Linked DNA regions of Homo sapiens. The protein of the gene in region 1 purifies or fractionates together with the protein of each later gene. This does not show direct contact. Each region holds a gene or a part of one and is shown in the gene's direction. Other genes may lie near its edges. The genes, in order: DHTKD1, ARMC1 and DUS2.

The links.
Region 2: the proteins of DHTKD1 (region 1) and ARMC1 fractionate together in Homo sapiens (co-fractionation; one large-scale study listed by BioGRID). This does not show direct contact.
Region 3: the proteins of DHTKD1 (region 1) and DUS2 fractionate together in Homo sapiens (co-fractionation; one large-scale study listed by BioGRID). This does not show direct contact.

Annotation. Positions count from the first base shown.
Region 1 is NC_000010.11:12,096,454-12,100,187, forward strand, and holds part of DHTKD1 (2-oxoadipate dehydrogenase complex component E1), read left to right. Parts: intron 1-1,230; coding exon 1,231-1,543; intron 1,544-3,724; coding exon 3,725-3,734. UniProt on the Homo sapiens protein: 2-oxoadipate dehydrogenase (E1a) component of the 2-oxoadipate dehydrogenase complex (OADHC). Participates in the first step, rate limiting for the overall conversion of 2-oxoadipate (alpha-ketoadipate) to glutaryl-CoA and CO(2) catalyzed by the whole OADHC.
Region 2 is NC_000008.11:65,624,178-65,627,677, reverse strand, and holds part of ARMC1 (armadillo repeat-containing protein 1), read left to right. Parts: intron 1-244; 5' UTR 245-279; coding exon 280-462; intron 463-3,500.
Region 3 is NC_000016.10:68,075,149-68,077,650, forward strand, and holds part of DUS2 (tRNA-dihydrouridine(20) synthase [NAD(P)+]-like), read left to right. Parts: intron 1-206; coding exon 207-356; intron 357-1,483; coding exon 1,484-1,571; intron 1,572-2,502. UniProt on the Homo sapiens protein: Catalyzes the NADPH-dependent synthesis of dihydrouridine, a modified base found in the D-loop of most tRNAs. Specifically modifies U20 in cytoplasmic tRNAs. Activity depends on the presence of guanosine at position 19 in the tRNA substrate.

The DNA of each region.
Region 1 (3,734 bases):
CGGCTCACTGTAGCCTCGACTTCCTGGGCTCAAGCGATCCTCCCGCCTCCACCTCCTGAGAACCTGGGACTACAGGCGCTTGCCACTATGCCTGACTAGATGGGGTCTCACAGCGTTACCCAAGCTGGTCTCGCCATCTGCCCGTCTCGGCCTCCCAAAGTTCTGGGATTGCAGGCATGAGCCTCCTCACCTGGCCCCAGGGCGTTAGCTTTAAAATCTATCCTGCTTTCTTCTCTCTTTTATCAGGATTAAATATGATAATATATGTGAATAGACTTTATAGTTGAAAGTATGACATGAATGTAGAGTGACATTTATTGTAACACCCAGGTGTTGATGATTGTAGTTAAAGGATGATAGATGCAACCTGAAAGATTGCAACTTTCAGACTGGAGCAACTTTGGGTTCCATACCTTTTTAGATAAAGGGGGGTGCTGATTGGATAGACAGTGTGGGTCAGTCTTGGAAATAATTGTCAGAATTTACCAAATCATAGAAAAACTCTGTTAATTATTTCTATTTGGATGCAGACAAAAACTTATAAATTTGTTTTCTCTCAGTTGCCTGGAAAAGAGGTTGTTACTATGAGTGCCTTCATTTATTAAATTAATTTATTATATTTAACATTGTTTATTTATTTTGTTTCTGTTTTATAAACTTATTGAGATGAACGTGACATAATATAAAATTGGCTGTCTTAATGCGAACAACTCAGTGGCATTTATTTACCTTCACAAAGTGGTGCAACCATCACTTCTGTCAAGTTCCAAAACATTTTTCCTGAATGCCTTTTTATTTTATTTTTATTTATTTTTAATTTTATTTATTTGGTTTTTGAGACGGAGTTTCACTTTTGTTGCCTAGGCTGGAGTGCAGTGGTGCCATCTCGGCTCACTGCAACCTCTACCACTTAGGTTCAAGCAATTCTCCTGCCTCAGCCTCCTGAGTAGCTGGGATTACAGGCGCCCGCCACCATGCCAAGCTAATTTTTTGTATTTTTAGTAGAGACAGGGTTTCACCACGTTGGCCAGGCTGGTCCCGAACTCCTGACCTCAGGTGATCCACCCACTTTGGCCTCCCAAAATGCTAAGATTGTAGGTGTGAGCCACTGCACCTGTCGAATGCCTTTTTAGAGTGCTGACACTCCACCGCCCTTGACAGTGACTCTCCTTGTCTCTATTAGATTGTTACAGGTCAGACTGATTTTTGTTTCTTCTCTTTCTTGGGCAGAGCTCGAAAGAGCATTCCAGACACATATGCAGAGCACCTCATTGCTGGCGGACTCATGACGCAGGAGGAGGTGTCTGAAATAAAATCCTCCTACTATGCCAAGTTGAATGATCACTTAAATAACATGGCCCACTACAGGCCCCCTGCCCTGAACCTGCAGGCCCACTGGCAGGGCCTGGCTCAGCCAGAAGCGCAAATCACCACCTGGAGTACAGGTGTGCCCCTCGACCTCCTGCGGTTTGTTGGCATGAAGTCTGTAGAGGTGCCAAGAGAGCTGCAGATGCACAGTCACCTGCTGAAGACACATGTTCAGGTGGGCAGCCTCCAAATGGCTGGTTATTGCTTCTCCTTCCTGCTCAGCAAAGGAGCTGACGTTGGTCTGGTGTTTTCAGTTGTCTGATTCATTTGACAAATATTTATTGTGTGTCGTTAGGTTCTAGAAACTGATCCTAGTGTTGTTTTGGTACTGATAGTCAGTTACCTCAGATTTTCTCTTCTTTTCTTTTTCCTCCATGTATTTATTTATTTATGCATGTTCATACATTACATGTACCTGGAATACATGCACACTATAAGAAATACAGAGATACAAGAATGTCTGTTTTTATTTTTCCAACCAGTGAGTAGAAAACACTTTGTTTCAGGTGGCTTAAATAAAAGAAACAAAAGTCAACACACATACCCCAAGGTAGCCCCCTAAACATGCTCATGTTTTACGTATTGTCTTAGGATCACTATAGGATGACAAACCACCCTGGTGGACCTGGGACTTAGGGGTTTTCTGGAATGTGGGACTTTAAGTGCTAAAACAAGGAGAGCAAAGAGTTAAATGTCTTTTTCTTTCTTAAGCTTGGATGAAGGAACTTTGCCCTCTAAATTATTTTATTTTATGTTATTTTTGGATGGAATCTCACTCTGTCACCCAGGCTGGTGTGCAGTGGCGTGATCTCGGCTCACTGCAACCTCCACCTCCCAGGTTCAAACGATTCTCCTGCCTCAGCCTCCTGAGTAGCTGGGATTACAGGCATGTGCCACCATGCCCAGCTAATTTTTGTATTTTTAGTAGAGATGGGTTTTCACCATGTTGGCCAGGTTGGTCTTGAACTCCTGACCTCAATTGATCCATCCACTTTGGCCTCCCAAAGTGCTGGGTTTACAGGTGTGAGCCACCATGCCTAACATGAATTATTTTCAAACACTAACTTGGCCAGGCACGGTGGCTCCTATCTGTAATACCAGTGCTTTGGAAGGCCAAGGTGGAAGGATTGCTTGAGCCTAGAAGTTCAAGACCAGCCTGGGCAACATAGTGGACCTTATCGCTAGTAAAGATTAAAAAATTTGCCTGGCATGGTGGCGCATGCCTGTAGTCTCAGCTCCTCAGGAGGCTGAGGTGGGAGGATTGCTTGAGCCCAGAAGGTCGAGCCTGCAATGAGCTGAGATTGCACCACTGTACTCCAGCCTGGGTGACAGAATAAGATCCTGTTTCTCCAAAAAGAGGAAATTAAAAAAAAAAAACCAACCCACTAACTTTAAGTTTTTATTATAGGTACAGAGACTATTACAACAAACTATTAATATGTACTCATCACTCAGCTTAGGAAATAGGATGTTATAAATACAGTTCCCCACATACCCCTCCTTGATCCATCTCCTCCCACCTCCGCAGAGGTAACCACTAACCTAAGCACGTGTTTGTTTTGCCTGTTTTAAAATTGTATATAGGCCGGGTGTGGTGGCTCACTCCTGTAATCTGAGAACTTTGGGAGGCCAAGCCGGGCAGATTATTTGAGTTCAGGGGTTCAAGACCAGTCTGACCAACATGGCGAAACCCCTTCTCCACTAAAAAGTACAAAAATTAGCTGGGCGTGGTGGTGTGCACCCATAGTCCCAGCTACTTAGGAGGCTGAGGCAGGAGAATCACTTGAACCAGGGAGGCTGAGGTTGCAATCAGCCAAGATCACGCCACTGCACTCTAGCCTGCGTGACAGAGTGAGACTGCCTCAGAAAAAAATAAATAAATAAAAACTGTATATAATTGCTCTCCTTCTCTAATGTATCCTTTTGTACTCTGTTTTTATTCAGCATTGTTTTTGATGCTTAATTTCGTTGCTTTTTTTTTTTTTTTTTTTTTGAGATCAAGTCTTGCTCTGTCGCCCAGGCTGTAGTGTAGTGGAGCCATCTCAGCTCACTGCAACCTCCGCCTCTCAGGTTCCAGTGACTCCCTGCCTCAGCTTCCTGAGTAGCTGGTATCATAGAGACACGCCACCAGGCCTAGCTAATTTTTGTATTTTTAGTAGAGATGGAGTTTCACCATGTTGTCCAGGCTGGTCTTGAACTCCTTACCTCAAGTGATCCACCCGCCTGGGCCTCCCAAAGTGCTGGGATTACAGGCATGAGCCACCATGCCTGGCCTGCATTAAATTTTTTGTACTCATTGTGAAAAAGGAAATGGACTCTTAGACGTTCCTTTTTTTTCTTCCTCTGAATTTTACAGTCCAGAATGG
Region 2 (3,500 bases), on another chromosome or scaffold:
AAACATAATTTATTGGAATATTGAGGACAACATATGTTCTTTAAACATTGTGCACACAAATTTTTTCAGTCGTCTTACGTTCATTTTACTTTTCTCAAACTGTAGAGTTGCCGATTTCTAAGTTTTTATGTGATTTAGTTTTAGTTACCTGATTCTTTCTAAAGGTGTTGTAATCCTGGTTATTTCACAAGTGCTATAATATACCTCAGCAGCCTAGAACTAATTCTGCAAACCTTTTCTACAGAATTTAAGATTTTATTCATGTGCATGGCATAGAAGATGAATTCTTCCACTTCCACCATGAGTGAAGAGCCTGACGCTCTATCGGTAGTTAACCAGTTACGGGATCTAGCAGCAGATCCGTTAAACAGAAGAGCCATCGTCCAGGATCAGGGATGTCTGCCTGGCCTTATTTTATTTATGGACCATCCCAACCCTCCAGTCGTCCACTCCGCTTTGCTTGTAAGTTGCCTTTAGTAATTTCAATCTCTGTTCTATTTTTGCAGTTAAGGTGAGAATTTGGAAAAAGTGCTAGATGACAAGGTAAAAAAACGGAAAGAGAGCAATTAGTTGTTTGTATTTATGTAGGTACAAACATATGTATGTGTGGTCTGTGGTCTGTTTACACCAGTGGTAACATGCTACATTGTTTTTATTCTTTATTTTTTTTTTTTTGAGTCATCTAGGCCTGGAGTACACTGTGGCAGGATCTTAGTTCACTGCAATCTCCACCTCCTGGGCTTAAACCATCCCCCCGACCTCAGCCTCCCAAGTAGCTGGGATGATAGGCACACACCACCATGCCAGCCAAATTTTTGATATTTTGTAGAGATAGGGTTTCGCCATGTTGGCCAGGCTCAAACTCCTGAGCTCAAGTGATCCTTCCACTTTGGCCTCCCAAAGTGTTGGAATTACAGCTGTGAGTCACCATGGCCAGCCTTGTTTTTATTCTTTTATACAAATTGTTGCATACTCCATGCATGGAATGTCCTACCACTTCCTTTTCATTTAACAATCTTGAGGATTGGATCATATCATACACAGAGACACTCAAAGAGGCACTTATTTTGTTTTTATTTTATAACAGCTTTTTAAGATGTAAGCACACAGCATCATATAATTCACTCATTTAAAGTATACAATTAAGTGATTTTAGTATATTCACAGAGTTGTGTGTCACCATCACCACAACTTTTTATTTTTATTTATTATAAATAAATTTTTTTTTTTTTTTTTAGTAGAGATAGGATGTAGCTATGTTAACTAGGCTGGTCTCAAACTCCTGGCCTCAAGTGATTCTTCTACCTCGAGCTCTCAAAGTGCTTAGATTACAGATGTGAGCCACTGTGCCCGGCCCACCACAACTTTTTATCTATTGCTTCCCAGACCCCAACACTCCCTGTCCCTAAGCAACTACTAATCTACTTTTTGTATGTCTATATTTGCCTATTCTGGCAAAAATGCCTATATATTTTGCATATAAATAGGGCCAGACGTGGTGGCTCACTCCTGTAATCCTAGCACTTTGGGAGGCCGAGGTGGGTGGATCACCTGAGGTCAGGAGTTTGACACCAGCTTGGCCAACGTAGTGAAACCCTGTCTGTACTAAAAATACAAAACAATTAGCCGGGCGTGGTGGTGGGTGCCTGAAATCCCAGCTACTCAGGAGGCTGAGGCAGGAGAATCCCTTGAACCCAGGAGGCAGAGGTTGCAGTGAGCCAAGATTGTGCCATTGCACTCGAGCCTGGGCAACAAGAGTGAAACTCCGTCTCAAAAAAAAAAAAAAAAAAGTTGTTAAAAAAATTAATGTTTTGGAAATTTTATCTATTGCCCTTTACTTAAGGACTCGTGATGATTCCCCATTTAGTCTAATTTCACAAGTTTGTACAGAAGGCATATAGACTTTTCCTTTTGGAAAAAAATTTCTATTTTGCCTTTACAGAATGAAGTTTAGCAGTCAAAAAAGACATTGGTGTAAGAGAACAGTAGTAACAAATGGGAAAAATGGCACAGTCCCCAGTCTGGGTTCAATTTCAATAAGAAATGCAAGAAGGATGAGAAGAAAGAGGGGGTTGATCTATAGATAGGGACTTGGGGCTAAAGGAAGTAAGTCTTTTTTATTTTTAAATAGACTAGAATATGTCTAAGTTCAGAGGGCAAGGGCTACTAGAATGGGAGAGGTTTGAGGGGAAGGCTCTCATAATTGCAGAAAATAGGAAAGATTTGCTAACTGAGGAGAATGATAAAGTTGTTCAGCAGTGTTGAGGGCTGATTAGTTTGGTAATACTGAATCGATATGATTCAGGCCTGTTGTAGGCTCACAGAGCCAAGTACTTGGATTTGTCTAGAGTTGTTACTTGGCCAGGTTAAGTTGGGCAGAATGATTGTGCAAGGGAGTTTAGGATCTTGGCAGGATTGGTTGAAATGATATACAGTAGATACTAGGCTGAATAGGAAGGGAAGTATAAAGTCATGGAGGGACAGAGCTAAGGAGAGGGATCAGTGAGTGAAAGTTCCCAAGAGGCTGAAGAAAAGATTTTTTTGTTGTTGTTTTTGAGACAGAGTTTTTGCTCTTGCCACCCAGGCTGGAGAGCAATGGCACAATCTTGGCTCACTGCAACCTCCGCCTCCTGGGTTCAAGCGATTCTCCTGCCTCAGCCTTCTGAGTAGCTAGAATTACAGGCCCGCACCATCACATGTGGCTAATTTTTGTATTTTTAGTAGAGACGGTTTTTCACCATGTTGGCCAGGCTAGTCTCGAACTCATGACCTCAGGTGATCTGCCTGTCTTGGCCTCTCAAAGTGCTGAAATTACAGGTGTGAGCCACCATGCCTGGCCATTGGGTGTGTTGTTTTTATGATTTCCTTTTTTCGTCACTGTTAGCTTATTAGTATACACTTTTGTTTTTATTTTAATTTATTTAGTGGTTGCTGTAGGTTTTACAATATGCATCTTTAACTTCTTACAGCCTACCTTTAAATGAATCATACCCTTAACATGTAGTGTAAGAATCACACAAGAGTATATTTCCATTTCTTTCTCCCATCTTTTGTGCTATTTTTGTCATACATTTTACTTCTACATATGTTTAAAAACCTACAGTGTATATATTTTTGCCTTAAACAGTCAATTATCTTTTAAAGAGATTAAAAATTTAAAAATGTCTTTTTTTTTTTTTGAGATGGAGTCTTGCTCTGTCACCTAGGCTGGAGTGCAGTGGCGCAATCTCAGCTCACTGCAACCTCTGCCTCCCGGGTTCAAATGATTCTTCTGCCTCAGCCTCCCTAGCAGCTGAGATTACAGGTGCATGTCAGCATGCCTGGCTAATTTTTGTATTTTTAGTAGAGACAGGGTTTCGCCATGTTGGCCAGGCTGGTCTTGAACTCCTGAGTTCAGGTGATCTGCCCCCCTCAGCTTCCCAAGGTACTGAGATTATAGGCGTGAGCCACCATGCCTAGCAAAAAAAGGTCTTTTATATTTACCTTCATTTTTACATTTC
Region 3 (2,502 bases), on another chromosome or scaffold:
CACGCTTGGGTTCACATTCACTTTCCATCTTCCAGTCCACAGTAATCCCAGGGCTGGGCAGGGGGCACATTCTGATGGCCAGGCCCCGGTGGTGTTTTGGTGTATGTGGTAGAGGAGTTTCTCAGTGGTGGGGCCCTGGGGTCCTGCAGTACCCTGGATGCTGGCTCCGCTAAAGTGTTTGCTCTGATCTGCTTCTTCCTCCCTAGTGAGGCCTTTGGCCTTGGTGCCTTCTATGAGGAGACCACACAGGAGCTGGATGCCCAGCAGGCCAGGCTCTCAGCCAAGACTTCAGAGCAGACAGGGGAGCCAGCTGAAGATACCTCTGGTGTCATTAAGATGGCTGTCAAGTTTGACCGGTAGGTCTCCAGCTTGGCCTCAGCTTGGGCTAGGGCCAGCACCCTTGGGGTCCCACTGGGCCAGCACACTGGCTGCTGTATGTGCTTAATGTCAAACGTAGGGACCACAGGTCTTGTTGGTTTGGAAACTCGTTCTAAATTTTCAGCATCCCATAGAAGGTGCTTTCAGGGGAGATAGTCCCTGAAAGGCTGTCCCAAGGATAACTGAACTCTACTTTTTCCCTGATTTACCGCCTCCCACAACTCAGGGCAGGGGGGACTTGTCTCCTGTTCCTGAAAGTCTGTGCTTTTCCAAGGCCCTGAGGAACTGGCTCCTGGCATGAAGCTCCTCAAACAACAGCAGGACCCTAGCCCTCATTTGGCTCTGCAGCCCCTACCCACACCCAGTGCCCCTCACCAGCTCTGTGGTGCTCTCTCAAGCTGCTTACGCCTCAGATTGTGACTCAGCTTTGAATGGTGCCCTCCTCTGGGATCTGAGCCTTTCTCCAGTCCCCAGGACCAGACAGGAGCCAGTCTTGTCTGGCAGAGGTGTGGAGAGGGGGAGCAGGGTGGTGGGGAATAGCTGTTGGGCAGTCAGATGCCAGGGAGAGTTCCAGTTGGGAAGTTGGAATATGACCCCTCCCACCCTGTCACTGTGTCACCCTGTCACAGGCTGACTCTGAAACCAGATTCCAAGTGTCCATGGCTGCAGCAGATGATCATGACACTTGGCAGGCGGAATCAGGATGGGCGCTGAGCTAGATCCCCGAGACCATTGTCTGGCTACCTCCATTGCCCACCTCCACCCACTCCCTACTAATCTTGTCTTGAGTGGCAAGCTTCCTTCTTGGATGTTGAACATTGTTTTTCCAGTCTGGACCTCAGAGTACTGGGAGTTCATTCCCCCTTCCCTTACAATTTCTTGAGCATGCCAAAATTCATCTTCCCTTTAGGGAGAACCCAGGTCCAAGCTGCTGGTAGGACAAGAATGGGAGCCTAGGGGAGCAAGTACAGAAGCCTTAAGGCAGCAGCTCGGTGTCTCAGTTCCTCTCATTTCTGCAGCTCCTTTCAGGAGCTGAGTAGTGCCCTGGCTGAGGGAGGGAGCGGTGATGGTGGGTGACCCCAACTGCTTCCCTTCCTTTCCCCAGGAGAGCATACCCAGCCCAGATCACCCCTAAGATGTGCCTACTAGAGTGGTGCCGGAGGGAGAAGTTGGCACAGCCTGTGTATGAAACGGTGAGTTCCTGGCTGTGGCCTGCCCTGCAGCCAGTCACAGCACTCCCATGGCTTACACCCTCAACTCTAGATTGCCAGGCTGGAGCCTGGCCTTGACCTCTGTAGGCATGGAGAAGCTGCTGGTGGCCAGGTCAGTTGCTGATAGCCCTCCCCTCTTACAGTGGCCTGTTGTCCAGTTCAGCCAGACATCTCTCTTTTTTTTTTTTTTGAAACAGAGTCTAATTTTTATTTTTTATTTTTTAGAAATGTGGTCTCAGCCGGGCACGGTGGCTCATGCCTGTAATCCCACAACTTTGGGAGGCCGAGGCAGGTGGAACACGAGGTCAGGAGTTCAAGACCAGCCTGGCTAAGATGGTGAAACCCCGTTTTCCTAAAAATACAAAAATTAGCTGGACATGGTGGTGGGCGCCTGTAATCCCAGCTACTTGGGAGGCTGAGGCAGAGAACTGCTTAAACCTGGAGGCAGAGGTTGCAGTTAGCTGAGATCATGCCACTGCACTCCAGCCTGTCTCAAAATAAATAAATAAATAAATAAATGGGGTCTTGCTTTGTTGTCCAGGCAGGCTGGTCTCAAACTCCTGTGCTCAAGTGGTCCTCCTTCCTCAGCCTCCCAAAGTGCTGGGATTATAGGTCATGAGCCTTTTTTAAAAATTTTATTTAATTATTTAATTATTTATTTATTTTTTGAGACGGAGTCTCGCTCTGTTGCCTAGGCTGCAGTGCAGTGGCATGATCTTGGCTCACTGCAACCTCCGCCTCCAGGTTCAAGTGATTCTCCTGTGTCAGCCTCCTGAGTAGCTGGGATTACAGGTGGGTACCACCACACCTGGCTAACTTTTTTGTATTTTCAGTAGGGATGGGGTTTCACCATCTTCACCAGGCTGGTCTCGAACTCCTGACCTCAGATGATCCCCCGACCTCGGCCTCCCAA